Homo sapiens: one gene and its partners. The protein of the gene in region 3 interacts with the protein of the main gene of each other region in a pairwise test. Each region holds a gene or a part of one and is shown on either strand. Other genes may lie near its edges.

What was found.
Region 1: the proteins of HHLA2 (region 3) and PGA4 interact in binary tests that used the Homo sapiens proteins (3 or more experiments, as listed by UniProt).
Region 2: the proteins of HHLA2 (region 3) and FAM3C interact in binary tests that used the Homo sapiens proteins (3 or more experiments, as listed by UniProt).
Region 4: the proteins of HHLA2 (region 3) and TMEM140 interact in binary tests that used the Homo sapiens proteins (3 or more experiments, as listed by UniProt).

The regions. Positions count from the first base shown.
Region 1 is NC_000011.10:61,224,650-61,232,467, reverse strand, and holds the end of PGA4 (pepsin A-4 preproprotein), read right to left. Parts: intron 7,130-7,818; coding exon 7,012-7,129; intron 6,143-7,011; coding exon 6,024-6,142; intron 5,349-6,023; coding exon 5,149-5,348; intron 3,798-5,148; coding exon 3,681-3,797; intron 2,550-3,680; coding exon 2,405-2,549; intron 2,303-2,404; coding exon 2,204-2,302; intron 1,087-2,203; coding exon 937-1,086; 3' UTR 774-936; downstream 1-773. UniProt on the Homo sapiens protein: Shows particularly broad specificity; although bonds involving phenylalanine and leucine are preferred, many others are also cleaved to some extent.
Region 2 is NC_000007.14:121,357,499-121,365,468, reverse strand, and holds part of FAM3C (protein FAM3C precursor), read left to right. Parts: intron 1-1,280; coding exon 1,281-1,339; intron 1,340-2,521; coding exon 2,522-2,572; intron 2,573-5,341; coding exon 5,342-5,426; intron 5,427-7,970. UniProt on the Homo sapiens protein: May be involved in retinal laminar formation. Promotes epithelial to mesenchymal transition.
Region 3 is NC_000003.12:108,291,052-108,299,854, reverse strand, and holds the start of HHLA2 (HERV-H LTR-associating protein 2 isoform a precursor), read right to left. Parts: upstream 3,308-8,803; 5' UTR 3,256-3,307; exon of another isoform or gene 801-3,255; intron 1-800. UniProt on the Homo sapiens protein: Through interaction with TMIGD2, costimulates T-cells in the context of TCR-mediated activation. Enhances T-cell proliferation and cytokine production via an AKT-dependent signaling cascade.
Region 4 is NC_000007.14:135,150,755-135,158,724, reverse strand, and holds part of TMEM140 (transmembrane protein 140), read right to left. Parts: intron 1-7,970.

The DNA of each region.
Region 1 (7,818 bases), on a different chromosome or scaffold from region 3:
CTGCCCTGTCCTATCTACTTAGGGACATCACCATTAGTGTCTACCTCTCGTGACTCTCCTGATTGCTTTCCTTTCCTCATGATCTCTTTTCTTTTTTTGTTTTTTTTTGAGATGGAGTCTCGCTCTGTCGCCCAGGCTGGAGTGCAGTGGTGCGATCTCAGCTCACTGCAACCTCCGCCTTCCAGGTTCAAGCGATCTCTTGGCTCAGCCTCCTGAGTAGCTGGGATTATAGGTGCGCACCACCACACCCAGCTCATTTTTGTAAATTTATTAGACAGGGTTTCACCATGTTGGCCAGGCTGGTCTCAAACTCCTGACCTCAGGTGACCTGTCCGCCTCAGCCTCCCAAAGTGCTGGGATTACAGGCGTGAGCCACTGTGCCCAGCCTTCTCATGATCTCTTATTGGCTTTGGGAGAAGTAGGAGGTTGACTCCCTCAACTAAGAGCTTCAGTGACCTATTTTTTTCTTTCTGAGCTGGAGTCTCTCTGTGTCGCCCAGGCTGGAGTACAATGGCACGATCTCAGCTCTGTGTCCCTTCTATGAGAAGACAATTAGCCCAGTATTTTGACCCCCAGGTCTTTTTATGATGCTTCCAGCACAACCCCCGAAGCCTCTCTGTCTTCTTGGCTCCATCATGAAGTGTCAGCTGCTGGGGTCACTATGTTGGGTGCCATCCAAATGGATGTGGTCATTTTCATCCCTGCCCTGGCGTTCTAACCCCAGTAATGTGAAGGAAAAAGACCAGCAAAGAGAAGCAGCTCCACAAAACCTGTTTCAGTGGGTTATGTTTTTATTCTACGTTATTGGTAGGACAGGGAACAGGGCCAAGACCTCCACACTCCCCTGGGAAGAACAGTCAGGAGAATTAGATACATCTAAAGTGGGCACAGGACAGAGGCCAGATCTTCCTGGGAGGTGGCTGAAGAGACTTAGGCTTAAGCCACGGGGGCCAGGCCGACCTGGTTGTTTGCCCTGTCGAAGACGGTAAAGTACTGGCGGATGAAGACATCACCCAGGATCCAAAGCTCTCCAGATTCGGTGGGGAGGTTCATGCCCTGGAAGCCACTGATGCAGCTCCCCTCGCTCTGGAGAAAAGGAGAATAAAAGTGGAGCTGGGACACCGATTCAGCCGTGATAGGCGCTGGGTGATAAACATCCAGGGCGCCCTGGTCCAGCTGTAAGGCACGTGCAAGGAGGAGCTTCCTGGCTCAGTGTCCAGGGACTCGGCTGTTCTTGGCCTGGAGTCGGCCTGTAGAAGCCGTCCACTGAACGACTGGTTTCTACGCATTACTGGACATTATCTGGTGTTTCTGGCAGGCACACGAACCCTGACATCAGCATTGGTGCTAAGGGGCTTAGGGAGAATTCAGCTGCTAGGAAGGAGTTTGAAAACCCTGCCGCCATAGCCTTTTCTCATTATTATTCTGATCCGGTCAGAGGCAAACCAGATGAGCTATTAGCCCTCTTGCCTCACTAAGTCACTGGGCTGCGACCTTGTCTGCACATCACCTGGGGAGCTTTGAACCCCCGCAGCCCCATCCCATTGCTCAGGCCTTGCCCTCTCCTAATGTAATCAGAATCAGTGGGGGAGCCCAGGCATCAGTGCTTCTTGTTGAGTAACATGAGTCCACTGGCAAAATTAGTTTTCCACCTGACGTTATGATAACAGAAGGGAAAGAGTTTTCTTGTGGCTCGTATAGCTAAAGATTTGCTACTTGGTAGAGATGGTAGAAGTGTCAGAAGCCCCAGCCTATGGAAATTAGGATTTCCATTTGCCCAACCCTTGGTAGCTCTGATGTGATCAGTCTCACTTGGTTGACCTAACCGCACTCTGAGGGTGGGGAAAGCTGCCATCTCTACTTTTTGGATGAGAAAACTGAGGGTGAGATGAGCTGTAGCTTGCTCAGAATCAATGGGCTAGTAATTCAGACCCAGGACTTGGACCCAGGGGTCCAAATAGAATCCTCTTTTCACTCCATTAACCTTTGCTTCACTTGTTCCCTTAGGGGGCTGTATCCGAGTTCTTATTCCTGCATTTGTTTTTAATATATTCTTTTTCTCTGGAGGCTGTCTAGGGCAGATGTTCGTCTGCCTCTGCCTGCTGGCTTCAGCTCGTGGAAGTGTACTTTCCGTCTGCAGAGGGGAACTCTGTGTCCACATTCTGTGTGAACCCCTCTAGTGGATGGTCCAGAGCCTCCTCACCTGCAGGATGTAGGCACTGGGTGGCACGGGGTACTGGACTCCATTGATGGTGAAGACGATGTCGGGCAGGCTGCTGATGGCTGAGCAGCTGACCACCATCTGGAAAGAGTGAGGGTGAGAAAAGTTAGAAGGGTTTCTGTCCCTTCTGCCTGGCACACCCACTACTTGAGTGTAGAACAGAGCAGTCGGGGCTGGACTCACGTCGCCATCTGAGTTCTCGCTGGCTCCGATGTCGCTCTGGATGTTGGCAATGGGGCTGGTTGGGCCGGTCAGCAGAGAGGTGCCGGTGTCAACAATGGCCTGGCAGCCCTCAGCGCAGGCGATGGCCTCTCCGTTCATGGTGATGCTGAGGGCAAGAAGCAAGTTAAGCTCCCTGAGCTCTCAGGGGTACTTCTCTCCAAGGAGGAACTAGGAGGTGAGCCCAGACATTTCTTCCCCACCCATCCATTGGCCAATGCGTGAAATTTCTGTTCCTCTCGTTCACGCACTCATTCGTCCCGCATTCATTTGCCCAACAAATATTTCCCAAGTGCCTACTCTCTGCCAGGCATGGGAAATGCCAAGTGAAACAAGACAGCCTCACAGTTCCAGGCTGCAGGGAGCTCCCTGCCTAGCTGGCAAGATAAGTTATGTTGGCAGAAGGGCAAGATGATCAGTCAGGCATGAGGCAGGGAACAAAAACAGGGTCCAGGGTGAGAGGTGGTGGAGGGGAGCAGCCAGGGGAACAGACACCCTGGAATGCCAGGCAGGTGAAGAGAGAAGGAGGACATCATCAGGGGATGGTATGCGGGGAGGTACAGAGACCAGAGGGCTGGGGCAGGTGTTGGAGGAACTGGTGAAATTCTAGCATGGCTGGGCAGACATGAGGTGATCCATGTGTCCTGGTTTGCCTGGGCTGGTCCCAGTTTTAGTACTGAAAGTCTCTGTCCTGGGAAATTGTTCATTCTTGGGAAAACCCACACCACTGAGCACGCTAGCAGGCTAGCTGGGGAAGAAGAGCGTGGAAATGAAGCTGCAAGGGAGACCGGGGAGGCCCTGAAGGGGAGGGTGGAATGAAGTGACTTCACACAATTTCTTAGCCATTTTGCCCCACTTCTAGACGGAAAGTGACATGTTTCCTCGAGTGGCAGGAGCGTGTGCTGGTTCACCGGCCCCTTAAATTGTCAGATGCGTGGACAGGTGGGTCCCCCAGCTCTCCCCAGGGATGCTGGTGGATGGTCCTGCCTCCGTGACTAGGAGGACAGTGGCTATCTCACCCTTGCAGAGTCTTGGCTTCCTAGACAGCTCTTCCCTCCTCCTGCAGGGAGGTGTCTTTCTAGGGGTCTCTGGCTTGGCCAACTTCCACCTTCCCCCTGGAGTGTGTTCCCCTGTGCCAGCTGTTCCTGGGGGGATTCTGGAAAGCTGATTGGCTATGAATCCATAAGGAAATGGGATCTGGGGCCCAGGCCTGGATGCTGCCCGTTCATGGCAGTCTCACCTGTCCACGGTGATCTGCCAGTAACCCTCGACGGTAACAGGCACCCAGTTCAGACTTCCAGTGTAGTAAGAAGAGTCAATGCCACCAAAGATCACCACGCTGCCACTCTGGTCATCGCTGTGGAAAGTGAGGGGAGAAGACATGAATTTTTTTGTTCGTCCATTTGTGTGACCATCTGCTGTTGCCTCCTCAGGGCTACCCTTGATTGGGCACTTTCTAGGGCTGTCCTGCGGTGTGACTAATGTGGTTTCTTTTCCTCTTAGGCCAGTGCCTATGCAGTGGGCACTGTCACTGTTATTTCCACTTACCATGAGGACACTGAGCCTGAGGGAGGTGAGGCCACCTGCCCAAGGTCATACAGCGGGGGAGTGGTGGAACTACGTTTGGAAGAACACAGGCCTTTTAGGTTGAGTCTGTGGTTTCCATGGTGGTACCCACTCTGGTTGCCATGGGGACCCCAGGGAAGTGAATGCATGACAGTGTCCGCTCTTAAGGACTTGAGGGTGGAGGTCACTGGTTCTTAGCTGGGAGCAGTTTTGCCCCCAGGGGAATGTCTGGAGACATTTTGGATTGTCATGATTGGGTGGGGGTAGGGGATGCTGCCGGCATCTCATGGGTAGAGGCTGGGGATGCTGCCAAACATCCTACAATGCACGGGACAGTCCCTGGCGGCAAGCTCTTATGTTGGTCTGAAATGTTAATAGTGCCCAGATTGAGAAACTCGGATCTGGCTGGGGAGATGCAATGGCCCCACATGAAATATTTAAGTGCTCATAAAGGCAGATGATGTTTCAGAGCCACCTTGAACATTAACTGGCCAAGAAGAATACATGACAAAGAGCCTTCCTGTGGTAAATTGCAGGAGTCCTTGTTATTGCAATATTCATGTTCTAAATTTCTGCAGTTTCAGGTTAGATGAGGAAGCAAATGTAGACAGCAAGAAGAAATTAGTCATCCAGGGCCGGGCACGGTGGCTCACGCCTGTAATCCCAGCACTTTGGGAGGCTGAGGCAGTCAGGTGATCGAGACCATCCTGGCTATCACCATGAAACCCAGTCTTGAATTCCTGACTTCAGGTGATCCTGCTGCCTCAGACTCCCAAAGTGCTGGGATTACAGGCATGAGCCACCACACCTGGCCAAGTGTATTCACTTTAAATGGCATCTTTGCGGGCCAAGGATGAGGGAAGTGGTACTGAGGGGGAAATGGCTGATGACATTTGAGTTGTGCACATCAAGGGGACAAAGATGCTGGTAAAATAAGATGGAGTGCACATGGCCCGTCAGAGACAGACTTGGCACTATTACTCTCCAAAGACACACTTCTCCAGCCTCAGACATTGACTTTCAAATCCCTTGCTTCCCAAGACCCTCTCCATCGCACCCAGCCTTGGACAGCTCCTGCTGGGCAGGAACACTGTGACCTCTGGAGGGGGAGGTGGGAGGAGGCCCCTCTCCACTCAACTTACGCGCTGAGGTAGACAGAGAAGAGGTCCTGAGAAACCAGGCCCTGGTTCCAGATGTTGTCAAAGACGGGTGTGGCCCCGGAGGAGGAAATGCTGGGGTAGGCCAGCCCCAGGATGCCATCGAAGGGAGCATAATACAGGAAGGAGCCAGGTTCCGTCTCGCTCAGGCCGAAGATCTGATTGGTGTCAGAGATGCCTCCAACCTGGGTGGGGAAACCGAGATGATGTTCACCATCGGGTCATGTTCACTGAGCTCTGGATGCCAGCCTCAGGCCCAGAGCCACCCTGGTTCATCTCATGCAGGACTTGGCTTCCAGGGTATCAGCCCGGGAGGAGGGCAGAGGGACTGTCTGCTGGAATGCTGGTTCCTCTGCTGGAGGTAACCATGGCAGCTGATCTCCAGATGGCTACAGTCTATGACTCAGGGTGAGATTTTGCTGGAGAACAGATGGTCACTGTGTGTTTGTGTTTCTGATGAACAAACGCAAAGCAGACCCCAGACCCCAGGCCTTTGACCCCTGCCATGCCCCGAAAGTGGCAGGGAGGGCTTGTGGAGATTTCGTGACTTGGGGTGCTGCATGTCGGGAGAAGAAGGAAGAGGAGGAGGTGCTAGTAGAGAAGTGAGCCTTTACTGACTCTCCCCACACTCCATAACATTCTGCTTGGGTGGAGCTGAGTCTGGGTTATGGCTCCTGGCACCCCACCCTTTTACTCACTGCCACCCGAGCTAGCAATGTCTGTGACATCTCTGCTGCTTCTCCCCCACCCCGCACCCCCAATCAGGTTACTTCTGTGATCACCAAGACTCATCTTGCTGGAATAAGCTTATTTTGGGGGTGCCTGATGGGGGGATGCAGCGGCAGCCTGCAGGTGCCCACCTGGACAGTGTCGTATCCGAGGATGCCTGTCATGCTGCCGGTGCCGTAGGTGATGGAGACTGTCTCGCTGGTGGACTGGTAGGTGGAAGAATCCTCAGGGTTGAAGCGGTTGTGGTTGGCTGCAAGGACAAGCGGTGAGTGTTATTCTCTGAGAGCTGGGTGAAGGTCATGGGCTGGATGTCTTCCTGGGATGGGGTGCCCTGGCCCTGGGACGGGCTCTGGAGGTGAGCAGCGACCTTTCGCCCTAGACCCTTGGAGCCCAAGAGACCCCAGGTTCTGTCCTGTCTCGTTGAACTACTGGGACCATTCACTGGTGGCAGTTTCCCCAGCCAACCCCAAGGGCCTCCTGGAGACCTCCCCAGACCAACATAGAGCGGAGCAGGCCCGTGGCTACCCAGTGACGAGCGCTTTCACCCTCTAGCCCCCAGCCAGTGCTCCCGTTATGATGTGGATGATGCCACAGGCACCTCATCTTCATTAAAACTCCAGTGAAAACACTAGAAGAGGAAGGAACCTGCAACACACATTGTTCATGACTTCCAAAGACAAACTCTCTTTCATTAGCAAACCAATGATTCTTTTTTTTTTTTTAAATGAGCTCAGCACTGACCTCTAGCCTGTCCTAGCCAGGCTTTGAAGCCATTTTCTCACACTGGACTCTTTCCTGGTGGGCTATTCTACAGCCCTTTGGCCCTGTCTTGCTTTGGGCCCCCCATACTTCCTCTCCCAGCCTGTGGTTATTGAGGAGAGCTTCTCTCTGCCCTCAGACTGTGTAGTCTTTGACCGCAGGGATCATATCACTCATCCCTTTACCCCCTGGAGCACCTGAGCCCAGTGCTTGGCACGTAGTAGGTGCTCAATAAATGCCTGTTGAGTGGCTCCAGCAGGCTTGAGGTGGGAACTGTTTGAAGCCCGTGGGTGTCCAGGGTTCCCCAGGGTCGGCTGGTGCTGGGGAGTGAGAGTGGGGTAGGGCGGTCTGGGCACTTACTGCAGGCAAGACTGGAGCAGTAGACTGAGGGCACCCACAGGTTGGAGGAGCCGGTGTCAAAGACGACGGTGAAATCCTGGGCAGGAGTTCCGATGCCGATAGTGCCGAAGTACTCCATCTGTCCAGGCGAGGACAGGGCAGTTCACGGAACGGGGTCTCTCTGTCAGGGCCTCCCTAGGGGCTGTCTCTGGGTCATCTCCTCAGTCTGCCTCTCCATCTTTTCCTTCATTCCTCACAGTTCTTATCTTTCTCTTCCCAGCCACTGTCTTCATCCTTCAAATCCCAGCCCTGGCGTCCCTTCCTCCTTGAAGTCTTCCCTGATTGCTCCCCCAATTTACCCTCTGCTCTCTGTTAAGCACCACAAGCACCTAACAATCTGCTGTTCCCTCTTTAGCCATTGTCTTGTCTGTCACAGTCTTCCCATCCGTACAGCGCATGTTCTCAGAGGATGGCGGTGGAACCTTCTAGCACCGGGCAAGTTACAGCTTAAGTGCTTGTGCCTTAAATTGTTTATCAGAAGCTAAGCAAGCCACTTAAAGATGGAAACCTGTCCAGTTTTCTTATTTCTACATCTAGATGTGTATAGCAGGTTGCAAGAAAGGGCATTGACAGTATTTTTATTCTTTTTTTTTGAGACAAGTCTCACTCTGTTGTCCAGGCGGGAGTGCAGTGGCGCGACCTCGGCTCACTGCAGCCTCCTCCTCCTGGGTTCCAGTGATTCTCCTGCCTCAACCTCCCAAGTAGCTGAGATTACAGGTGTGTGCCATCATGCCCGGCAAATTTTTGTATTTTTAGTAGAGACGGGGT
Region 2 (7,970 bases), on a different chromosome or scaffold from region 3:
GGTGAGGGAGAAAATATTACACAGATTAAATTGAAAAATATGTCCTATCTATATCTATTATATGGTGGATAGCACCAAAAATGTAGGAAGTAGTCTTCCAATATTTAAAACTTATTATCTGATTCAGTCATCATTGACAGGCAAGTGGAATTTGAACATGAATCTCCATTATTTGTTTTTCTTTATTTTATCTTATTAACATAGATCCAACGTTTGTTAGAACTGAGCTCATTCATCAATTGCAACCATAGTTCAGCTGCAGATGTGAATTGTTTGAAAAATCAACTAAAATACTCTGTGAGAATCGACTGAGATTTATAATAAAGTACATCGTAGATTTTATTTATGAAATTGTGTGCTATACATCTTTTAGTAGTTTATAATAAATTGTGTACCTATGTGTATATATAATTCTGTCTATATAAGGACAAGTGTGTGCACGTGTAGTCACATATGTGCATATTGCCTCTCTCTCCTAAACACAGAGCAGTTGTTAAATAGTTAACAGCACACCACTGGGAGTATTACTATTACCTTGAAGTTTTGAGTTAAAAGAACTCACAATTTTAGTTTAATAATTCTAATTTGAGCAATTGAACAAACTGAACTGATAACCAGCAAATTTGTCACTGGTACCTTCCATTTTACAGTGTCATTGTCTTTATATAGTGGTCTGTGAGCTGCCCATGGAAGTCGATTATTTCAGGTAGTCACCACGTAAGTGACTGTCATTCAATGCAGTGATTTCATGAGTGCAATATTTCTTAGTGTAGACGAACTTTACAGTGATAATCACTAGGAGAATGTTCACAATTAGGTAAAACATTCATGAAAGAGTGCTCCCCCACTCTGTTTGCTTTTAGATTTAAATGATGGGGGTAGTATCTCGCTTCTGTTTCATGTCACGCTGGTATTGAAGAGAGCAGAAAAGAGATTATCTTTTGTTTGATACCTTAAGAATGATGCAGAACATATGCTTAATGTCCATGTTTTAAGAATAATCTGAAGCAGTGTAGCACAAAAATGGTCTATTATTTCAGGCCTAATATTTTTTAATATGTATTTCTATTTGTGAAATATTATTTAAGGACATTGCTTTAAAATTATTCAGTATTAGACTGTCTTCTCTGACTTAGTAGAGATCTTTTTAATTTCCTCCGCAGCACTGAACAATTGAAAATATGTATAATATTCCTAACTTTTTTTGCAAGACTTTATTTTTCTGATATGTTATTGTACAATATTTAATTCTAAATTTATTTCAATTTCTCCCCCTTCAGTTTAATGAGTGGTGTTAAGAATAATGTTGGAAGAGGGATCAATGTTGCCTTGGCAAATGGTAAGAACAATTATTTTAGCTTATGGATGTAATCATTGGGTATTTTTCTGTCCCAAAGTAAAATGCACTATCAGAGGATCAGGTTAGAAAGTACTGCTCTTGATGATAAAGCCCTCTGTCCCATCCCTGCCCTGCAAAAAATCTATGGGTGGAGACTTGGTGTCTAAGAATTTATAGCGTGTTTCTTGAAAGTATCCTAACTTGCTATGCAAGAGCTTCCATGAGATTGTCAGAAACCAAGCAGTCTAACATCACATTGATAAAATCTTGCTTCAAATTTTGGAATCCTAACATAATAGGAAGATAGGTTGACAGGATTAAAGGCGTATGAAATGACAAAGGATGGTGTAGGGGGAGGAACAAAGAATAAGAATGTATTGTAATTTTTCATTATCAGCCACATTCTTCTGATAGCTTAATTAGTATGAATAAGTTGATTGAATCCTGAACATCTCAAATTTTCCTTCAAAATCAAATCTGAAAACATAAAACCATAAAGTGAGGCCTAACTGCATATTGATCCTCTCTGTTCTGGTACAATAAGTATTCCATAAAGCTATGTAGGATGGTTATAAGATATATAGGATGGTTAGAAACCACTGTAGTTTCATAGTGTAGAAAAATATATTTTACTACTTTCACAGCAAGAGGTAAATTTTTGTTCTTCTGCTTTCTTCATTTCCTTAGGTAAAAGGTTCAACATCTGTCTATTTCATTAATAGCAAAAAATACATTTTATAGGGCAAGTTAATGTAAGTTTTATTGTAAAAACTGATTTAATGTAGAAAATGGCATCTGATTCAAGGAGATACTTCTTTTTTGTAAAAGGTTTACTTTTGAGTAATTTTAAAATAAGAGAATATGGAAACAACGATGAAATATATCTAACCGAATTGGAATGGTCTACAGTCAGTAATGAACTTCTATTTATCCTTCGGCTTAAAAGATTAATGAGAAAGTTCTATTAAGAAATTACCCTTTAAAAATATATTTCAGGTGCATATGATTCAGATTTTAAGTTCTCAAAGTAATTCTTTGAGATGAATTCACATCTCTCTAATGCTAATGAATTCACATCTTCTCTGCTAATGAATTCACATCAATCATTGGATGAGATTATTGGTCTTACAGTGTATGATATATTTCAGATGCATAATTTGATATGAATTTAATCTCTTTTAGGAAAAACAGGAGAAGTATTAGACACTAAATATTTTGACATGTGGGGAGGAGGTAAGCATAAATAACATGACTGTGTTCTTTTGCTGGCACTGACTTAATCACCTCAATACAATGTAGCCCATTAATGAGAGAATGATGATGCTATTTGCGTTAGTTCATTTTGTTTCCCTTACTTTCTGTTCACTAAATGTCCAGCTGTATTTAAGTTATCATTCATGTTTTATATACTTTCTTCTTCTTAGAAAAAAATTTTTGTGGTGTATAATTGAAGATAGTAATATCAAAATTGAGATTTTTTTAAAAAAAGTCATCTTGTTTTCTACAGGACAACCAATTCAAAAGTTTTGGGCTCCTTTAAGTGTGTCTAAAATTTAAAAAAAAAAAGTAATTTGAAGACCAGAATAACCAATGTAAGCATTCCTAAGTGATAGGAATTGATTTTTTTTTAAATGTGATTTTTTAGTCTCAAAAATAAATCATTAGGAGCATTAGGAGCATTAGAAAGACAAGATAAACTATCAGTTTTAGAACAGCAGTCCTATTATTCATCACAGTTCTACCCTCTGACTTGCAGCTAATTTTTTAGGTAGATGAATATTTGAGGGAAGAAATAGAATTTTCTTTCTTGTAAAGCAATCCACAGATATTTTCCCCTTCCATATTTGGAAGTCCCACAAGGAGTGGGAAGAAGTTACCAGCACGCAGAGGCAAGGGACTGGCACCCCAAAGAAGAACGCTGCCCGGAAGAATGGGTTTTTTTCCTCCAGTTTGAAGGGAGGCCAACACTGGTTTATCTTTTGATTCTTTAATTTGGGAGATTGATCAGTATGAGGATCTCCCCTGCACCTCCCCATTCCATTTATATATTCCCTAGAAGCCAACAGCTATTAGGCTTCCTGAAATTCATGTTAAGAGTTCTCAGATAATTTAGCTTTTCCAACATATCTTCAGCTTGTAATAAGATGGTATGTAGCCGGACGTGGTGGCTCACGCCTGTAATCCCAGCACTTCGGGAGGCCGAGGCAGGCAGATCACGACGTCAGGAGATGGAGACCATCCTGGCTAACACAGCGAAACCCCGTCTCTACTAAAAATACAAAAATTAGCCGGGCATGGTGGCATGCACCTTTAGTTCCAGCTACTCCTTGGGAGGCCGAAGCAGGAGAATCCCTTGAACCGGGGAGGCAGAAGTTGCGGTGAGCCGAGATCTTGCCACTGCACTCCAGCCTGGGCGACAGAGCCAGACTCCGTCTCAAAAAAACAAAAGATGCCGTGTATTATTTTGTTATTAAATAATGTTAGGACAACATTGCATAGCTGTCAAAGCTGTATAAACTTAAAATGGGACCATCAATTTTAGATTCTAAAGGCATAAATTGGTCCTGCCAAAATTTATTGATAGAAAGAGTCTTACAAAGCTGTTGTTGAAATCAGTCATGTGACCAGGAGCTCTGGTATTCCTTACTTCTCTTGTCACAGGTAGATTAATTACCGCTAGCAGCATTCTTCTAGTTAGGAAATTGTTGCAGTTTATTGCCACTTTTGCATTTAAATGGAAGTAGTTTGTTAGCTGCCTTGTTATATCTTTTTGAATTGAAAATGCTATTATTATGAAATATAATCAGTTATCGAAAATCTTTGGCATCTTTGCTGTGGAAAGAAACTGAGTACATTTGAAGTAACCCAGTTTTGGAGTAGAATTAGACTTCAGAGCTATAAGGAACCCAGACATTGTAAAGAGTTCAAGATGTCAAGTGGTTTTTAGAATCTGACCTATGTATCTGGCATCAACAGTTTATAGTCATTGAAGTGGTTTATTTTGAAGTCCTTGTGGATTTTGATTTGGTAGATCAAATGAGTAATGACTGTAATATTTGCTACAATTAGTTTGGCTTTTAGTGATCACCTAACATATTCCTTCTCCCAGTTTATAGCAAATGATATACCTAAAATAGCCTTTAAATCTGTGTGTATATGTATTTTTAGATTTTCTAAAAATTACAGATATCTTTGAGAATCGGAGAAAAGCTGTGTATCCTCTTTCTAGTAAAGTACCCATACAAACATTGTTATGCTTTTTTTCGTTTCGTTTTTGTTTTTTTGTTTTGTTTTTGAGACAGGGTCTTGCTGTGTCAACCAGGCTAGAGTGCAGTGGTGTGATCTCAGCTCACCGCAACCTCCACCTCCTGGCCTCAAAGCAGTTCTCCTGCCTCAACTTCCTGAGTAGCTAGGACTACAGGCATGTGCCACCAAGCTCGGCTAATTTTTAAATTTTTTTGTTGAGATGAGGTCTCACTATATTGCCCAGGCTGGTTTCAAGCTCCTGGGCTCAAGCCATCCCCCAGCCCTGACCTCCCAAGGTGCTGGGATTACAGATGTGAGTCACTGTGCTCAGCCCATACAATTTTACATACACTTAAGGAGTCCACACACCTCCCATGCCTCCTTAAGCTTATGCATGGACCCCAGAATAAGGTTTTCAGGATCCCAATTATTCAAATCTGAGAGATCTCTGAATTTCTTACTTCGTAAGTCATGCTTTACTTTGCTATGATTTTTTTCACTTAGCCCCAGGAATATCAATACGAAAGACACAGGATAAATCAGGAATGGGAAATTGTAAGTTGATAGTGGGATTATGTTAAGGGACAAATTTAACAGTTTTTAAACTCTTTATGAGATTTGTCTGTCTTTTGGATTACTTTACATTGGAAATTATTGCTTTACAGATACTTCATGTTTTATAATACTACTTTCAGAGATTATCGTGATGCTTATTCAGTCATTTTTTAAAACCCTAAACCCTTTCTTTTTCTTCAGATGTGGCACCATTTATTGAGTTTCTGAAGGCCATACAAGATGGAACAATAGTTTTAATGGGAACATACGATGATGGAGCAACCAAGTATGTAAACTTTACAGAACTTTTTGGAACTATAATTTGTAATTATAAAAGCAATACATTTTCATTAAAAAAAAATCTGTAACATAGAGCAAAGTAATCAAACTACCAGGTAAACACAACTAACAATTTTTGTTTTTACTTTGCCTCCTTCCTGGTTTTATATGTAAATGTTTATCACACATATATTGTCATGAAATTAGAATCACATCATATGTAACATTTTTTATACTTTTATGTTTTGTTTTTTAACATTCTGAAATTGTTTTTCCTAGCATTAATATTCTTCAATAGCATTTTTATGGTTCATCAGCAGTTATGGGCTCACCTTTAAAGTTTCCCTATTATTATGTCATTAGGGTAAATTTCAAGAAATGGAGTTAATTGTCAAAGATACAGGTGTGCTATATTTTAAATAATTTTAATATATAGTAGTTTTATAACTTTTTCTTAAAATAGTATATGTTGTAAAAATTTGGAAAATTATAGAAAAGCGCAAAGAGACCAAGTTCCAGTCCATCTCACTACCCAGTGTAAACATTGATGATATTTTAGTTTCTATTCCAGATGACTTAAGACACATTTTTTGGCATTAAATATTTAGAATGCTAGTATTTATAGCATATCTCTTCACTTACGTGGTGAATATTTCCCCTTATTATTAAATATTCTTTATAAAAAATTGTTTATGCCTGCCTAGTCTGGTTTTTAAAATGTCATGATTTATAACCTGTTTAATGGGTTGCCTATTGCTGGACCCAGACTAGTTCCAATTTGCATACTTAGCACAATAGACTATCTTAGAAATGTTTGAACAGTCCATGTCTATGTCTTTAAGATAGACTTCTTTTTTTTAAAGTGGAAATGATTAATTAAAGGATGTGCATGTTTTTAAAAATGGATTTTAAAAATTTTTTTACCAATTTTATATTTTTCTCAGAAGTTCCATGGCACCAATTGTTAATTTTTTTAAGTTTCAATTTTAAGAGTTTGAAAAGGTATCTTATTTTAATATGCCTTTATTATTGAGATTGGATTTTTTTCACAAGTGGTTTTTTTTTCTTTTGCCTTTTTATGTAAATTGTCTTTTGACCATTCGAGTTGGCCTATCTTGACTTGTAAGACCCCTTCACGTTTTAAGGATATTAACCATTTCTAATGTAAAAAGAAATGTATTTATTGTACATTATTTGCTTTTAATTTTGTTAGTGTAGGGTGCTTTTTGAATTTTAGAATTTTAGACTAATGCCTATATAGTCTATGTATTTTTCTATCACTCTCCTTGTATACTTGAGAAGTATTTTTCCACCTCCAGGTTAGATATTTAGTAGATTTTCTCTTCCAGTGATTTCACTGTTGTCATGTATTTTTAAAAACCCATTTGTAATTTCCCCATGACACACAATGCCTATGTTCTTATGTAGATTTGGCTTTATCTCTGGAATTTCTGTTCTGTTCCATTCACTTGACCTGTTTATCTCTGTTCCAAAAAGACACTATTTCAATTATTTTAAAATTGTTTTATAAAAGTAATTGTACTTCATGCCTCTCTGGTTGAGATTAAATCCCCTTTAATGTTCTTCTTTCTAGAAAAAAATAATTTTTTCTCTGACTTTTCTTCAGATGACTTATCAAGGATAAAAAACATCCTTTATAGATTTTAATTGACAGAGCTTTAATACTACAAGATTTATAGATTTTATAGATTTTAATTGACAGAGCCTTAATACTACAAGATTTATACAGAAATTTGTATTTTTATGTATTGATTTTTATAAATGTATTATTTTATAGCTACATTATCACAGATTTACATGAAAACAGTGATACTTTATAAATGGTTGTAAGCTGAAGTAATTTCATTGACATTGTGCGTTTTATCTGGTTCAACTAAGAATATATTAAATCCATAAATTGAAGGTTAACATAAAACTCGCCTATTCAAGCATTTTCATCTACCTAAATAGAATGAAACAGGATGTAATTAGGCTCTCATCAAAAAACAGGTAACTTGCTATTTGCTTTTGCTGAGAGAATAGGCTATTACGTGTAAAATTTGAAGTTTTAACATTAAAAAGAAAAGGCCCCACTTTTCTGACTTGACAAACATGACCTCCGTTTTTCACCAGATTATTTTGTTATACCTGATGGGAATCAAAATTGCTCCCCTTAACCTGCTAATATGCTAATAATAAATTATAGCCACAACTAAGAACTAGGGGAGGAATGATGTTTACTCTTCAACTGCTATTTTTTGGTGCCCATTAAATGCACCAAAAGCAGCTTTGGAAGAGAGTTCAACCTCTAGGGCAAAAGGAAAAATCTAAACTTTAATTTCTTTACGTTTGGTCACTTGGTCAATATATGATTCATCTGTGAATTTAAATGAATTGAGTTGTATTAGTTTGGGGCACACGAATTTATATTTCAAATATTTCCTTTTCCTAAATACCAGTAAAAGAAATTGTAAGCATCATATCTTTTATACTGAAATGGACAACATCCTTAAGAAAGGCAATCTACATCTAATATATATATAACCCTTTT
Region 3 (8,803 bases):
TAAGTTTATTCTAGAGTGACCCTTGCTCCTACACGAAATGGTACCTAGCGAATGTCAATAGTATTTGAGCTGGATAGGGCATATAAGGTTGAGTTAGAGTATAATTTGTACCTTTATGGGTCTGAAATATTTAAGAAATGCTTGCCACTTGGGTCATCTGAGTTTTCTATGTCCCTTCCTCCTCTCTTATCAGCAAATCTAAAACTCTAGGAAGAAAAAGTCAAGAACTCCAAAACTAGTTACTTTTACTCCACTCAGCGTAGCATTTCCATAGATTCCTGCACTTATCACCCAGAACTTTCTGTTCCACCCCTGAATTTGCAACTCAGAACATACTACTCTGACGGAATTCTTCATAATCTGACTACTCCTCACCTTTCTCTCCTCCCACCACACTAACAAGATTTCTAAGCTCTGACTCCATCAATTTCACCCTTTTCACTTATTATCTATAATAAATATGTATTATATTTATATAACATTTATATATTTATGTATTATAATAGTTATATGATTATATATATATATTTTTTCTGGGTCTTTTACAAAAGTGATTTAACTTTTTGAGTCTTTTTTTAAACTAAGTTTATTTTCCTTGTTGCCAAGTTGATATAACTACAGAGCTACTAGCTTTGCATGAATGTAATTAGATTAGGAATATAATTTGTCAATTTGGAAATAGAAATATTATCAAAGTTGGTCATAGTAACATTAATTTTGTGTAATTGACAGGATATTGTAGTGATTGCAGTTAAGGAATATAGAGTATGGGACAAAAAGAAAAGGTAAAAGGTTTTCACCTTCAGAAGGTGTTCTTGGTGATGTCTCTAATCTAGGTTAAATTAGATAGAAAGGATCTCATTTCTCGAAGGTGGTGTCTAGGACAGACCTGGATAGCCATGGAGAAGACATCCCACCTGAAACAGAAGTATTAAAGCAAGGAAGCTGCAAGTGTACATTTGCCTATCTCAGGTTTGTATCTTAATCTCTTATCACTTGGGAATTAGTGGTTTGAACTCTAAATGGTAAGCAGCAATGTGCAATGACAGACTCTAAGATTCCAAGATCGAGGACTAAGGAAAAACAAGCCCCCATTCGTTACTCAATTTTAAAATGAGCCTCTGAGGGGACATTTAACAGTATTTACAGAGAGAAAAAATCTGAATCTGCAGTTATTATAACAAGCTGCACCTGCTAACTGCATTCTAGTCTCCAACAGAAAAAGATGCAATACAGTACATTATCTCTGAGACCTGCTGGAAATGAATATCCAGAGAAAAGCAAGCTTCTAAGGGTGAAGCCTATGCTGAAGAAAGAGAAATATGCATTTTACTGAAGATGGTGCAGTAAAAGGGGCCTGCAAATATATACTGGAAACTTTAGTTGGGGCTAAATTAGAAGGATTTTGAACATATAAACACTACAACTGAATACCAAGGAAAGGTGTGTACATGTTATAAAGATAGTATTGTGTTAGAAAGGAGAACCTAAAGTTATAATAAGCCAGAATAGCAGGATTTTTCTGGTGGCATATGTTTATAGCCCCAGTTAAACGGAATGGACTTGGATCCTCATTTTCTTTTCTAGGAGAGTCAGGTCAGAGTCCTAGATAGGGAATACCTAATAGCTAGTCTCATCTGACAGAAGAATAAGGAGGAAGGAATTTCTCTTGAATAGGCAATTGGTCTTCCCAGAAATTAAGTCAGGAAGCAACTGGCTCTTGGATAGCCCCTGGGTCGCTGCTATGCAGATACTTGGAAAAGGGGTATTCATTCCTACTAGGCAGGGGAAAAGTTTGCATGCCTGCAGTCAGAAGTCAGTTAGACAGACATTCAAAGCCTCAAAGAGAATGCTGGTTATGTAACTCAGAACAAACTCTCCACTCCTAGGCAAGTCTCTGGGAATTTAGAGTTGACATGACAACCTCAGGAGGAAAAACACCTTGTTTAATGCTGTACTACGTGACCTACACCGGTCACTGACCAGAGCAAGGAGAAGCCACCCAGAATCACTGGTTAATGATCAAAATATTAAGCTATGGTCTATTTTAAGCACCTGGAGGAAAACTCAACACAGGAATTGGTTTCTTTCCCAGCTCAGGCCAACTGATAGAACATGCTGGTGGGCCACACGCCAAAAGTAGGCAGAGCCTTCATTCATGGATTTATTTAAGAGCCACCAAACTTTCAGGCTACTCAATATGATTATATAGGAAATCATTTGTCTTTTACATCTATATTCTGAAATAATAATATTTATTAAACACTTTCTACATACCAGGCACTTTGCTAAGCACTTTAATAAATTTCATTTAATCTTCACAGCAATACTAGTCTACCCCCATTTTACAGATTAGGAAACTGGCTCTGAGAAAAATATACAACTGGTTAATGATGAAGCAGGTAAATGCACCAAGGATTACTTGACTCTAGAGACTATGATCTTGACCACTACACTTTATTGCATCTTTTGATTAAAATATGCTTATAATGGGATATGACACCAATTTGCCATTCTGGACAGAAATTATTTCCTCCAAGTTTCTAGGAAATGGGAAGCTCAAGTTTGTTTTGTCAGGTACCAGTAACACAAAAAAACCTAAATTACCTGTTCATATTTTTTTCTATTATCCAAAGTCCCAAACAATAGAAACCCAATGAGAATTGAATCTTAACTTTTTGAATCTTGTTTTAGTTATTAAAAAATGACATAAACTTAATGATTCTTCCCTGAGACAGTGGAAATATCTAGGAGACTTCTAAGTTTCTTGTATTAGAATTCAAAGATCACGATTCTTCTGCTAGATAACCACTACTACGGTCCTTTTGTTTCCACCACAGAATGGAACGCAGTGCATCTTGGAGCAGCTAATAAAACTCTGTAGTGTAACTAGATGAACAATTACAAGTAAGAATACACTCTTAGAGATTTTTTTAAAGTTCGCAGATAATTTTCAAAACAAACATTGCTCATCCCTCTTTCACTGTCTTACCAGAATGTTAGGTATTTTCCTCATTTTTGCTAAGTTCTTTTATTTGAAATATATCAGCATGTTCCTTCAAGACAACCTTTTACTAAGTATTTGTTTGGTGCATATGCACAATACATAGTATATGCACTAAATCAATTTAAAAGATCAGTCACTAATTTTTTCCTAACGGGAAAATAAAGTGTCAACTAAAAACCACCCATATTTGATTTATTCATGCCCACTTTTAAGTTCTAGGTATAAACAACTTAGAAAGAAATCCTTACCTTACTTAGAAATTCATACCGTCTAGTCAAATGCTAAGTAGTCCATAAGAATAAACATTGAATTCAGCTATGAGTTTCTCAGAGAGTAAAGTCCAAGGTACGTTTGATTTGCTACCTATGACAGACCAAGGAAATCACATCATCACCAAGGACTCCCTCCTTCAAACTAAGCCCCACCCAGATCTGAGTCAGTACAGATCTGAAAAGTCCAGGAATTAGAAGATGCAGTTTCAGACAACATATTGAAACAGCTAAGCATTGAGCTGTGGGAGCAGTGGACTCTGGTTTCCATGCTATGGTGTCAGCTTCACCATCAACATGATACAGGCAACCTCCTGAGGTTGGACTGCCTGTGACCTGTCTAGCTTGCTGCAGAGTTGTAAAGAAAATTGTGTAGCTGGTTGCAGTGGGTGCCAATAGTTCTGTGAGAAAGAACCATAACCCTACACAAAGTTCATCTGCACCTACAATTCCCATTACAGTTCTGGTCGCTAGAACACCCAAGCTTAAACTCAACTTCAGAGAAATAAAGACCTCTCTGAATTCCACATGGAAAGTTGGGCAGTGCCCAGCCTCTATGCTGTCATATCATTTAATCTCTCTCTCCCTCAGTGTCACATGCATGGCATGCATGCACATACAACAGATGCTAAGAGTCATGCTTTACTCACTATTGTATCCCAAACAACTACCACTTACTTACTAGCACATAGTAGCTGGTCAATATCTGTTTGCTGAGTGCATGGGAGCAAAAGTTACAAAGTGAACAAAAATTACCTTAGGAGGACAATAAACAGGACCCTTCTGTCTGGAACAAAGGATGCCATCCAAGCCTTGGCACAGCACACAAATCCCCTGATCATATAATCATAGGGCCCTGTCTAGCTTTATAGCCTTTCGGCATTACTCACCACATCAACGTTAACCTCCTGCCACACATGCACACTCAGGGGAGAGGGCAAAGTACATTTGGGGAACTCCCCCTCCTCTTCCCCATCTCTTCCTTGACTTCCTTCTTCTCTAGTCAGAGTCATCCATAGTGAGCCTTCTGCTGCCCACTGGAAACTGGGTTGAAAGCGCCAGGGCTCTTCCTAGAATCCCCAAAGTCACCCACGCCAACGTTTTCTTTTTTGTTTGTTTTTGTTTTTCGTTTTTTTTTTTTTTTTTTTTTTTGAGACAGAGTCTCTTTCTGTCGCCCAGGCTGGAGTGCAGTGGCACGATCTCGGCTAACTGCAAGCTCTGTCTCCCAGGTTCACGCCATTCTCCTGCCTCAGCCTCCCGAGTAGCTGGGACTTTCAACCCAGTTTCCAGTGGGCAGCAGAAGGCTCACTATGGATGACTCTGACTAGAGAAGAAGGAAGTCAAGGAAGAGATGGGGAAGAGGAGGGGGAGTTCCCCAAATGTACCTTGCCCTCTCCCCTGAGTGTGCATGTGTGGCAGGAGGTTAAAGTTGATGTGGTCAGTAATGTCCAAAGGCTATAAAGCTAGACAGGGCCCTATGATTATATGATCAGGGGATTTGTGTGCTGTGCCAAAGGCGCCCGCCACCACGCCTGGCTAATTTTTTTGTATTTTTAGTAGAGATAGGGTTTTGCTGGGGTTCCTGGTTTAGCCAGGATGGTCTCAATCTCCTAACCTCGTGATCCGCCCGCCTCGGCCTCCCAAAGTGCTGGGATTACAGGTGTGAGCCACCGCGCCCGGCCGCCAACTTTTATCATTAATAAGATCTATTATGAAATGAAATCAAAATCAAACTGGGACTTAAAAGATGCAGGCAATCCCTGCTTTCACCTCTGAATCTCCATGGCCATGTAGTTAATGGTACATCACACCACTGTAATATTAGTTTAGGGAAATAGCAGAGCTCCTAAAGCATACACATGAGGAGAGCAGACTCTCACGGAATTTGAAAATAGAAGAATTACATATTTTTTGAAGATTTTTGAAGTTTTAGGAAGAAATGCCGTATGCATACAAACATACCTGTTATGCAGAGATTGTTCAAGCTGAAGGTAAAAATAGAATCACGGTTTTAAATAATATCAATGGCTGAGGAAGGAAAGAACAATTTCTCTGAGATTTATGTCACAGAGAAAGTGGCTATGATATGTATGCCATTATTGAAGACTAGATCAACAGTTTTAGGTTACAAACCTTTCCCTTGCAACATATTCTTCATTTCAGGAAGGGGTACCTGAAAGGAAGTAGGATGAACCATTAGGACCCTATATTAGGGGAACCTGTAGGGCCACTGCTTGCAAGAGCTCAACTGTTAGGCTTTGGGATCTGTTACCATTTCAACACCACTTTTGGTTCTCTTCTGCAAAGTGCCTCCACGATGTCTTCAAGTGACTGGGAGAAGAAACGGCATATGAAATATGGTTAATCCTGATTATATCTATGCACATGTACCTACACTAAGGCTCAGGGGAGAATTTAATGTTGGCATTGAACATTTATTAAGTTGGCAAATGTTCTGAGGAAGTAAAAAGTATAACTGTCATGTAACTTGAGGATGTGAGAGCAGCTACCGGTTGCATCCTCAGATCAAATAGGGCTGAAATTAGTCATCCAACTGGAGTCTTTCAGTTGTCGAAATACTGCAGAAGAAAGTGAATTTAAACTCTAAAGCTGAGAGGTGGACAGACATGGCTAAAATGTAGATCTTAAATTGGTCTGACAGGGAGATAAGGAATTACGGTCCTCATATATTAGGCATTTACTGAATCAGTTCAATCAATATTTATTTCCAGCAAAAAAGTCTCCTAATATTTCAGCTATTAAAAACCTTGAGGTGTTAAACTCACATATTCATTTTCCAAGATGCTAAGTGTGGTGCCTGTCATCATTTGTGCATGTCATGCCTTCCTGGCCCATTGTTGCTGTGAAAGGACATAAAGTAATTTAGGCCTAGGCATTAAAGTGGAATTGGAAGATCAAGAGAGGACTGCACTCATACCTGCTAAATGTTAAGCCACAGAAGGTTCCAACAGACTTGGATAACACCTTAAGTCAGAATCCACTGGACTTCAACATCTCTCAGCTGGGAGTACCCTAATTAACTAACAATTCAGAACAGCTCTGCAATTTAGGATTTCTGTCCAGCCAGTGAATTGCCCCTCAAAACAACTTTTTCAAGAAATCTCCTATTAAAAACCTGAACTTGCCTTAAAGGACACTATTTAGTGTTGCCCTAATTCAGTGTACCTGAATTGCAATTCTTTTTTTCCCAAATATACTCTACTTTCTTTGGCATCTGTGTTGATTTTTTTCTTAGTTAATGTAACAACAGAACTGCCACATCAGTGCAGGGACTTCCTGAGGCCTTCTAGATGCTCTCTGTGATCTATTCTTAGTTCTCTGTTTTCCTGGTATTGCTTCATATTCAGGTCTAGAATAGCATCAACCACCTTCAGTTTTGCAGTGAGTTAGCTTTTAAATTGCTTCAAAGTGCTTTCACAACTCTCTTAATGATCATTCTGGGAAACAGCCAGGGTAAGTGATCCTCCTGCTTCATTTAGGATGAAGAAACAGGTGCTAAGAGTGAACAAATGATACACCTAATGAATAAGTGTCAAAGTTGGGCATTACATTAAACATCTGCCATACTCCTCTCACATCCCCTTGGCTCACCTTTTTGTCCTGGACATTGTTGAGGCAACAGGCTCTACACAGGTGCCCTTACCAGCACTTCATCCCAGCTGTACTATGCGTCTGTCTTGCTTGTTATCCCAGGGATTCTCTGCTTTCTAGTGAGACTCCTAAAACAGAGAAAATAAAAACCCTCCAGTGTTAATTTTAGCCTATGGAGGTCAGGCTGTTCCCCTGTTTTCTCTCTGGTTGACAATCCTGAAGTGTCTTCTATGTGGTTCCTTAAAGCATCCCCACCAAGACTAAGCCCCAGTTACCCACAGGCATAGCCAGCTGAACAGCACACTCTTGGATTAGCTCTCCCTCCTTCCTGTTTTACTCTTCTCAAGGGCCCCTCCCCTGTTCCCTGGATTCACTTCCCAAAATAAAATACTTGCTTTTCTCTTGCAAATTTAAGTTCCTTATAGATGGTGGATATTAGACCTTTGTCAGATTCATAGTTTGCAAATATTTTCTCCTATTCTGCAGGTTGTTTACTCTGTTGATAGTCTCTTTTGCTGTACAGAAGCTCTTAAGTTTAATTAGATCCTGCTTGTCAATTTTTGCTTTTGTTGCAATTGTTTTTGGTGTCTTTGTCATGAAACCTTGCCCATTCCTATGGCAGGATGGCATTGCCTAGGTTGTCTTCCAAGGTTTTTATAGTTTTGGGTTTTACATTTAAGTCTTTAATCCATCTTGAGCTGATTTTTGTATATAATGTAAGGAAGGGATCCATTTTCAAGCTTCTGCATATGGCTAGCCAGTTATCCTAGCACAATATATTGAATAGGGAGTGTTTTCCCCATTGCTTGTTTTTGTCAGCTTTGCTGAAGATCATAGGTGTGTGGCCTTATTTCTGGGCTCTCTATTCTGCTCCACTTGTCTATGTGTCTGTTTTTGTACCAATACCGTGCTGTTTTGGTTACTGTAGCCTTGTAGTATAGTTTGAAGTCAGGTAATGTGATGCCTCCAGCTTTGTTCTTTTTGCTTAGGATTGCCTTGGGTATACAGGCTCTTTTGTGGTTCTACATGAATTTTAAAATAGTTCTTTCTAGTTCTCTGAAGAATGTCACTGGTAGTTTGATAGAAATAGCACTGAATCTGTAAATTGCTTTGGGCAGTATGACCATTTTAATGATATTGATTCTTTCTATCCATGAGCATGAGATGTTTTTCCATTTGTTTGTATTTTTTATTTCTTTGAGCAGTGTTTTGTAATTCTCATTGTAGAGATCTTTCACCTCCCTGATTAGCTGTACTTTTGGATATTTTATTCTTTTTTGGCAGTTGCGAATGGGATTGCCTTCCTGATTTGGCTCTCAGCTTGGCTGTTGTTGGTGTATAGGAATGCCAGTGATTTTTGTACATTGATTTTGTATCTTGAAACTGCTGAAGTTGTTTATCAGCTGAAGGAGCTTTTGGGCTGAGACAATGGGGTTTTCTAGATATAGAATAATGTCATCTGCAAACAGATAGTTTGAGTTCCTCTTTTCCTATTTGGAGGCCCTTTATTTCTTTCTCTTGACTAATTGCTCTGGCTAGGACTTCCAATACTATGTTGAATAGGAGTGGTGAGAGAGGGCATACTTGTCTGGTGCCAGTTTTTAAGAGGAATGCTTCCAGCTTTTGCCCATTCAGTATAATGTTGGCTGTGGGTTTGTCATAAATGGCTCTTATTATTTTGAGATATGTTCCTTCAATACCTAGTTTATTGAGAGTTTTTAACATGAAGGGATGTGGGATGTTTAATTTTATGGAAAGCTTTTTCTACATCTGTTGAGATAATCATGTTTTTTATTCTTTAGTTCTGTTTATATGATGAATCACATTTATTGATTTTTGTATGTTGAGCCAACCTTGCATCCTGGAGATGAAACCTATTTGATCATGGTGGATTAGCTTTTTGATGTGCTGCTGG
Region 4 (7,970 bases), on a different chromosome or scaffold from region 3:
ACCCCTCCCCACAGCTTCTTTTCCACACTGCTTGTCTGGGAGGGACACTCTCTGATCCCAGGCCCAAGGTAGCATTTTGAGAGTTTAATGCTGGGCTGCATTCCCCTCCCAGCCTGAGTTTGGGCTGATGAGGCTGTAGCTGCCTCTTGGCTAAGGAAGGATAGGGAAATCAGGCCATCCTACACATATCTAGGACAAGACCCCCTGCCCTGCCATGGGCTGCTGTGAGACCGAGATGTGGCCATCCTGTGTGTTCCACAGCTTGTTGCCAATGCTGCTTACTTGTGAGGTGCTCCTCCCTCTCTGGTCTCAGGCTCCAGGTGCTATTTTGAGAGTTTAATGTTGGGCAGCACCCCTCCCTGGAACTGAGATTGGGCTGGTGCAGCTGTAGCTGCCACCCAGCCAAGGATTAACAGGGAAATCAGGCTGTCCTATGCACATCTAGGTCAATACCCACTGCTCTGCAACATGCTGCTGTTGAGACTGAAATGTGAGCAGACTGCCTTCCCTACAGCTTCTTGCCCATGCTGCCTGCCTGGAGGGACCCCTGCCCTCCTGGTCACAGGCCCAAGGTGCCATTTTGAGAGTTTAATGCTGGGCTGTGCCCCACCTTCTTGCTGAGTTCAACTTGATGTGGCTGAAGCTGCTGCCCAGTCAAGGAGAAACAAGGAATCTATGCTCTCCCGCACATACCTAGGACAATACCCAGTGCCTGCTACGGGTTGCTGTGAGACCGAGACTCAAGTAGACCACCCTCCCTACAGCTTCTTGACCATGCTGCTCACCTGATAGGGGCCCCACCTTCTCTGTTCACAAGCCCACAGCTGGCACCATTTTGAGAGTTTAATGCTGATTCATAACCAGTCTGAATTAACAATCAGGCAATGTGGCTGCAGCTGCCACCCTGGTAGGAAAGGGACAGGGAAGACCAAGCTCTCCTAAGCACACTTAGAACAGTGCCCACCACCCTGCTACAGGTGGCTGTGAGACTGGGGAGTAGCTCACCCAACCCATCACAGCTTCCAGCAACACCAACATGGACTGCTTGGATCCCAGTTGGCTGCTTCAACAGTGCTACTGCCATCACTCACATGACACCACCTGCTCAGGGGCTAGAGATCATGCCCACACACTGGGCTCACCACTCCCACTACTAGCTTCTAAGCAAGCCATGTGGAGGCCCAAGAATCAGCCCTCCAAGACCCACTAACCACCAGAGCAGCGTAAGCTGCTGTGGGGCCTAAAAAGGGCACACTTACCCCACTGTTGCCACCACTGGGGTCCAAAGGCTGCTCAGTTGGCATCCAAGTCCCAGCTAAACTTCTGGGGACTTAGTCTCAGCTAATTACCATACTCTATCCCACTGAGGAAATCACAGAGAACACTGACCCTATGCCGAAGAAGTCATAGAAAGATCACACGACTGCAGGCATCCAAAATCAAAGTCAAAGCATCTTAACAACATGCATATATCCTCAGGAAAAAATTCTCCCTTATAAAAGCAATTTCAAAAAATTGGAACAAGCAACTGCTACACCAGACGCAAAGAAATCAATGGAAGGATACAGGAAACATGTAAAAGCAGAGAAACATGACACCATTGTATTAGTCCATTTTCACACTGCTGATAAAGACATACCTGAGACTGGGAAGAAAAAGAGGTTTAATTGGACTTACAGTTCCACATGGCTAGGGAGGCCTCAGAATCCTGGCAGGAGGTGAAACACACTTCTTATATGGTGGTGGCAAGAGAAAATGAGGAGGAAGCAAAAGCAGAAACCCTGATGAACCCATCGGTTCTCATGAGACTTATTCACTATCACGAGAATAGCATGGGAAAGACCAGCCCCCATGATTCAGTTACCTCCCCTGGCGTCCCCTCTCACAACATGTGGGAATTATGGGAGCTACAATTCAAGTTGAGATTTGGGTGGGGACACAGTCAAACCGTAACAATCATCAAAGAACCACAACAGCTGTCCAGCAGCAGCAGATCCCAATCAAAGAGAATTCTTCAAAATGCTAGATAAAGAATTCAAAATATTGATTTTAAAGAAGCTCAATGAAGTGCAAGAGAAATCTGAAAACTAATACAAAGAAATCAGAAAATTAATCCAGGATATAAATGAGAAATTTATCAAGGAGATAGACATCTTAAATAAAAACAAGCAGAAATTCTGGAACTAAAAAATTCATTGAAGGAAATACACCATATGCTCAAAAACTTCAACAGTAGACTACACCAAGCAGAAGAAAGAATCTCAGAACTCGAAGACAGGACTTTTGAAATAATCCAGTCAGACAAAAATGAGGAAAAAAGGATAAAAAAGAATGAATAAAGCCTTTGAGATGTCTGGGACTGCAAGAAGCAACTGAACTTATGAATTATTGGTATTTCTGAGGGGGAAGAGAGATTAGAAAGTTTAGAAAACATATTTAAAGAAATAGACATCCAGATACAGGAGGCCCAGTGATCCCCAGGAAAATACATTGCAAAAGGACCTCACCATGGCATATTCAAAATGTCTGAAGTCAAGTGAAAGAAAGAATTTTAAAATTAGCAAAAGTGACTAGTCACCTATAAAGGAAATCCCAAATCTCATCAGACCAATTGAGGACTTTTCAGCAGAATTCTTACATGCCAGAAAACAATGGGATGGCATTTTCAAAGTGCTAAAGGGAAAAAAAAAAACAGTGTGTCTGTCAGCCAAGAATTTTGTATCCTGCCAGAATAAGCTTTATAAAAGGAGAAATAAAGTCCTTCCCATACAAGCAAATGCTGAGGGAATTTGTCACCACTAGACTGGTACTACAGGAAATGCTCAAAAGGATCTTAAACACTGAAATGAATGGTGTTTTTAATTAATTATTTTTGATAGAGGGTCTTGCTTTGTCACTCAACCTGGAATACAGTAGTGCAATCACAGTTCATTGCAGCCTTGACCTCGTGGGCTCAAGCAATCTTCCTGCCTCAGCCTTTTGAGTAGCTAGAAATACAGACATGTGCCACCATGCCCGGTTAATTTTTAATTTTTTTGTAGAGACAAGATCTTGCTATTTTGCCCCGGTTGGTCTTGACCACCTTCCATCAATTAATGCCCCTGCCTGGCATCAATTAATCCCCCTGCCTAGCATCCCAAAGCACTGGGATTAAAGGCATGAGCCACGATGCCCAGCCAAAAGGTTGATATTCACCATCACAAAAACATACAGAAGTATAAAACTCATAGTTTGTATAAAACAATCATACAAAGGAAGAGAAAGGAATCAAATGGCAACATGACAGAGTTTCATCAAAACACAAAGTCAAAAAGGCAAAGACAAAGAGTCTATAAAACAACCTGAAAACAATAAACAATATAACAGAAACAAAGTCTCACAGATCCATATTAACCTTGAATGTAAATGGATTAAATGCTCCACTTAAAAGATACAGATTGGCAGAGTGGATGAAAAAACATGATCCATGCTGCTTACAAGAAACTAACCTTACCCATAAAGACATATAGACTGAAAACAAAGGGGTGGAAAAAGATATTCCATGTAATTATAAACCAAAAGCAAGCAGGCATAGCTATACTTATATCTGATAAAACAGATGACTTTAAATTAAAAATAGTAAGAAAAAAGATAAGGTCATTGTATAATGATGTAGGGATAAATTCAGCAAGACGATATAATAGTCCTAAATATATATGTACCCAACATTGAAGCACCCAGATTAACAAAACAAATATCACTAAAGAAAGAGGTAGACAGCAATACAATAACTGTAGGGGACTTTTAACACTCCACTCACAACACTAGACAGATCATTGGGACAGAAAATTAACAAAGAAACATTGTACTTAAATTGAACTTTAGACCAAATGGACTTATAAAACATTCTACCCAACAACTACAGAATATACATTATTTTTGTCAGCACATGGAACATTCTCCAAGATAGATCACATGTAAGGCCACAAAAGAAGTTTTAACAAACTTTTTAAAAATTGAAATTATATCAAGTATCTTCTCAGACCACAGTGGAATAAAACTAGAAATCAATACCAAGAGGAACTTTGGAAACTATACAGATAATGGAAATTAAACAGCATGCTCCTGAACAACTACTGGGTCAATGAAGAAATTAAGACAAATTAAAAACATCTTTGAAATGAATGCAAAAACACATTGTACTAAATCCTGCAGGTTACAGCAAAAGAAGTGCTAAGAGGGAAGTTTATAGCATTAAATGCCTACATCAAAAAAGTAGAAAGATCACAAATTAACAACCTAACATTGCACCTCAAGGAATTAGAAAAGGAACAAACCAAATCCAAAGTTAGCAGAAAAGAAAAAATAAAGATCAGAGCAGAACTAAATGAAACAGGGACAAAAAATTTACAAAGGATCAATGAAACTAAAAGTTCATATATTAGTTCTTGGGATCAATGAAAGTAAAAGCTGATTATTTGAAAAGATAGACAAAATTGATAAACCACTAGCTAGATTAACCAAGAAGAAAGAAGATCCAAATAAACACAATCAGAAATGAAAAAGACATTACAACTGATACCATAGAAATGCAAAAGATCATCAAGGACTATTATGAACAACTGCATGCTCACAAACTAGAAAAACTAGAGGAAATAGATACATCCCTGGAAACACAAAATCCCCCAAGATTGAACCAGGAAGAAATAGAACTTCTAAACAGACCAATAATGAGTAGTGAGATTGAATCAATAATAAAAAACTCCCAAGAAAGCTTAAGACTAGATGTATTCACAGCCAAATTCTACCAAACATACAAAGAAAAACTAATACCAATAATCCTGAAACTATTAAAAAATCAAGGAGAAAGGAATTCTCCCTAACTGATTCTCCGAGGCCAGGGTCACCCTGATACTAAAAACCAGACAAGGACACAGCAGAAAATGAAAACACAGACCAATATCCCTGTGAACGTAGATGCAAAAATCCTCAACAAAATACTAGTAAATCAAATCCAATGGCACATCAAAAAGATAATACACTATGATCAGATGGGATTTATTGCAGGGATGCAAGGATGGTTCAACATATGCAAATCAATAAATATGATACCCCAGGTTGCTGGATTGCGTGGTTTTTCAGTTCTTTGAGAAATCTCCATACTGTTTTCCCTAAAAGTTGTATTAATTTACATTCCCACCAACAATGTATAAGCATTCCCTTTTCTCCACATCCTTGACGACATCTGCTGTTTTTAGAGTTTTTAGACTTTTTTTTTTTTTTTTTTTTGTGGAGATGGAGTCTTGCTGTGTTGCCCAGGCTGGAGTGCAGTGGCATGATCTCAGCTCACTGCAACCTCTGCCTCCCAGGTTCAAGCAATTCTTCTGCCTCAGCCTCCCGAGTAGCTAGGACTACAGGTGCGTGACACCATGCCCAGCTAATTTTTGTATTTTTAGTAGAGACAGGGTTTCACCATGTTGGCCAGGATGGTCTCGATCTCCTGATCTCGTGATCTGCCCACCTTGGCCTCTGAAGGTGCTGAGATTACAGGCATGAGCCACCATGCCCTGCCTAGACTTTTTAATAATGGTCATTCTGACTGGTGTAAGATAGTATCTCATTGTGGTTTTAATTTGCATTTATCTGGTGATTAGTGATGTTGAGCATTTTTCATATGTTTCTTGGCCACTTGTATGTCTTCCTTTGGAAAATGTCTGTTTATGTCCTTTACCCACTTTTTAATGGGATTGTTTTTTCTTGTTGAGTTGTTTGTGTTCTTGTAGATTCTGGATATTAGTCCTTGGTCAGATGCATAGTTTGGCAGCCCCTTCCCCATCGGGCACCACCAGCAGCAGTTGCTATCATGGCCTTGAGGACTGCCGCATGGAACTTACATGTTTTAATTTTGCTGCTGTTAAACATTACACACTTTGCAAATTTTGCGGAGTAGAATATTAAAAGAAAAAACAGGTAAGCCATTAGGTTCCTAGGGCCTTTCTTTTAATTAATGATTTCAGAAAGCCAAAGGGGACCAGGGAGGGAAGAACTTGCTTTGATGAGACTCTTTGATCAGTGGAAGGTGTCTGAGAAGGAATCTAACTTTAGTGAGAACTTATTAATAATTAAAAACAGACCTCAAAATCTCTTGAGAATTTACTATATGCCAGGCCCTGTGCTAAGCACTTAACAGGTATTGTCTTATTAATTTCTTACAACCATGTAGGGTAGAGTTACTGTTTTCATCTTCATTTTCCAGAGAAGAAGACAGGCCTAGTAAGGGTCAGTAACTTGCCCAAGTTCACACAGCCAGTGAATGATGGAGCCTGTCAGGCTGCATTGTTAATCACCATGAGGATCTACCTCTAACTGGGGGCCTGGCCCTTTACGTGCATTAACTCATTTAATCTTCACAACACCCTTGTGTGGATGTTATTATCACTGTTCCCATTTGACGTAGTGAAGACAGTGTGGAATACTGGTTCTGAGCATGGACCTTGAAGCTATGGCTTCTGGGTTCAAGACTCTGCTCTTCCATTCACCAGCTGTGTGACCTTAGTTACTTAACATCCTTCTGCCTAGATTTTTCATCTGTAAAATGGCTTTAATTATATAACTTATTTTGTAGATGTTATGGAAATTAAATGAAGTAATTTGTGCATGGCATTTAGAACATGACCTGGTAAGTATTATTTAAATTATTACTACGATAGAGAGAAAACTGAGGCTCAGAGAAGTTAAGCCCAGGCTACCAGCCTGACAGTGGTGAGATTCTAGGAAGACAAATAGTGCCAGGGTTCATTCCCAGAGATGAACTCTAGGAAGCTGGTCTCATTTATGTTTGGTTGTGATGACTCCAGGATGCAGCTGCCTGTTGAGAGGTAGCACAGTGTGGTGGTAAGGAGCATGGGTTTTAGAGCCAGATGACCTGGGAGCATGTCGTCGTTCTGTCACTCACTAGTCATATGACCTTGGGCAAGTTACATAGCCAGCCTGAGCCTCACATCCTCATCTGTAATGCATCAGTTGTCACGTTCCTCATGGGCTGTTGTGAGACTGAAGGAAGTTCACTCACATATAGAGGGCTTGGGGCCTGACACAAACTGGGTCAATGTGTCTGCTCTGGTCATGATGCTGAAGCAATAGCTCAGTGGGAGAAACGGGAATTGACGGAGAGTCAGGTAGACATGGTTGGGTGTGTCGCCTGAATGGAGAGAGGAGAACTGGGAAGAAAATGTTAGCAGAATAAAGCCGGGGCAACAGAGCTTGCCAGGGCATAGAACAAGGGCGCAGGTTTACTTGTCAGAGGCCACCAGTCCTGGCTAAAATATTTCTGGTGGAACACATTGAAGATCAGTGTGCTCATGGTTTAGGTGTGGCTGTCACAAAAATAAAAAGGGAAGAAGAAAGGGAAATGTGTCATATTTCCTTTGGTAGAAACATGAGTCCAGGTTCTAATTCTTTTCAAAACAGGGCTACTGCAGTGTTTTTCAACAGTGTGTAGGTGGTGGCAGCTCCTGGATTTCACCAGTGTTTTCTGTGGACAGCCATCCCAACCACCAAGTTTTTAATGAATGCTGTGATGTTTTGATTTACTTAATTATTCCATGTAAATAAAACAGCTTTATCAGACAAAATAGGACTATACCATGAGATTATAACATAAAGTCAGAAGCATGAGTCCAGGCACCCAGATGACAAGCCATTGAGATAGCTGTTTAAATGGTTCCATTAATATTAACTTGCTATTTGTGCAATTGTTTTGTTGACTATTAGCTCTCACTAGCAGATAATCCAAGTGGGAACAAAGATTACAAAAAGTTTAGAGGGAGAAGAAAATCCTTAAAAATGAGAAAATGTCTACAAATGAGCCATCTTAATTTGTTTGTTTGTTTGAGACAGTCTTGCTCTGTCACCCAGGGTGGAATGCAGTGGCACCATCTTGGCTCACTGCAATCTCTGCCTCCCGGGTTCAAGAAATTCACCTGCCTCAG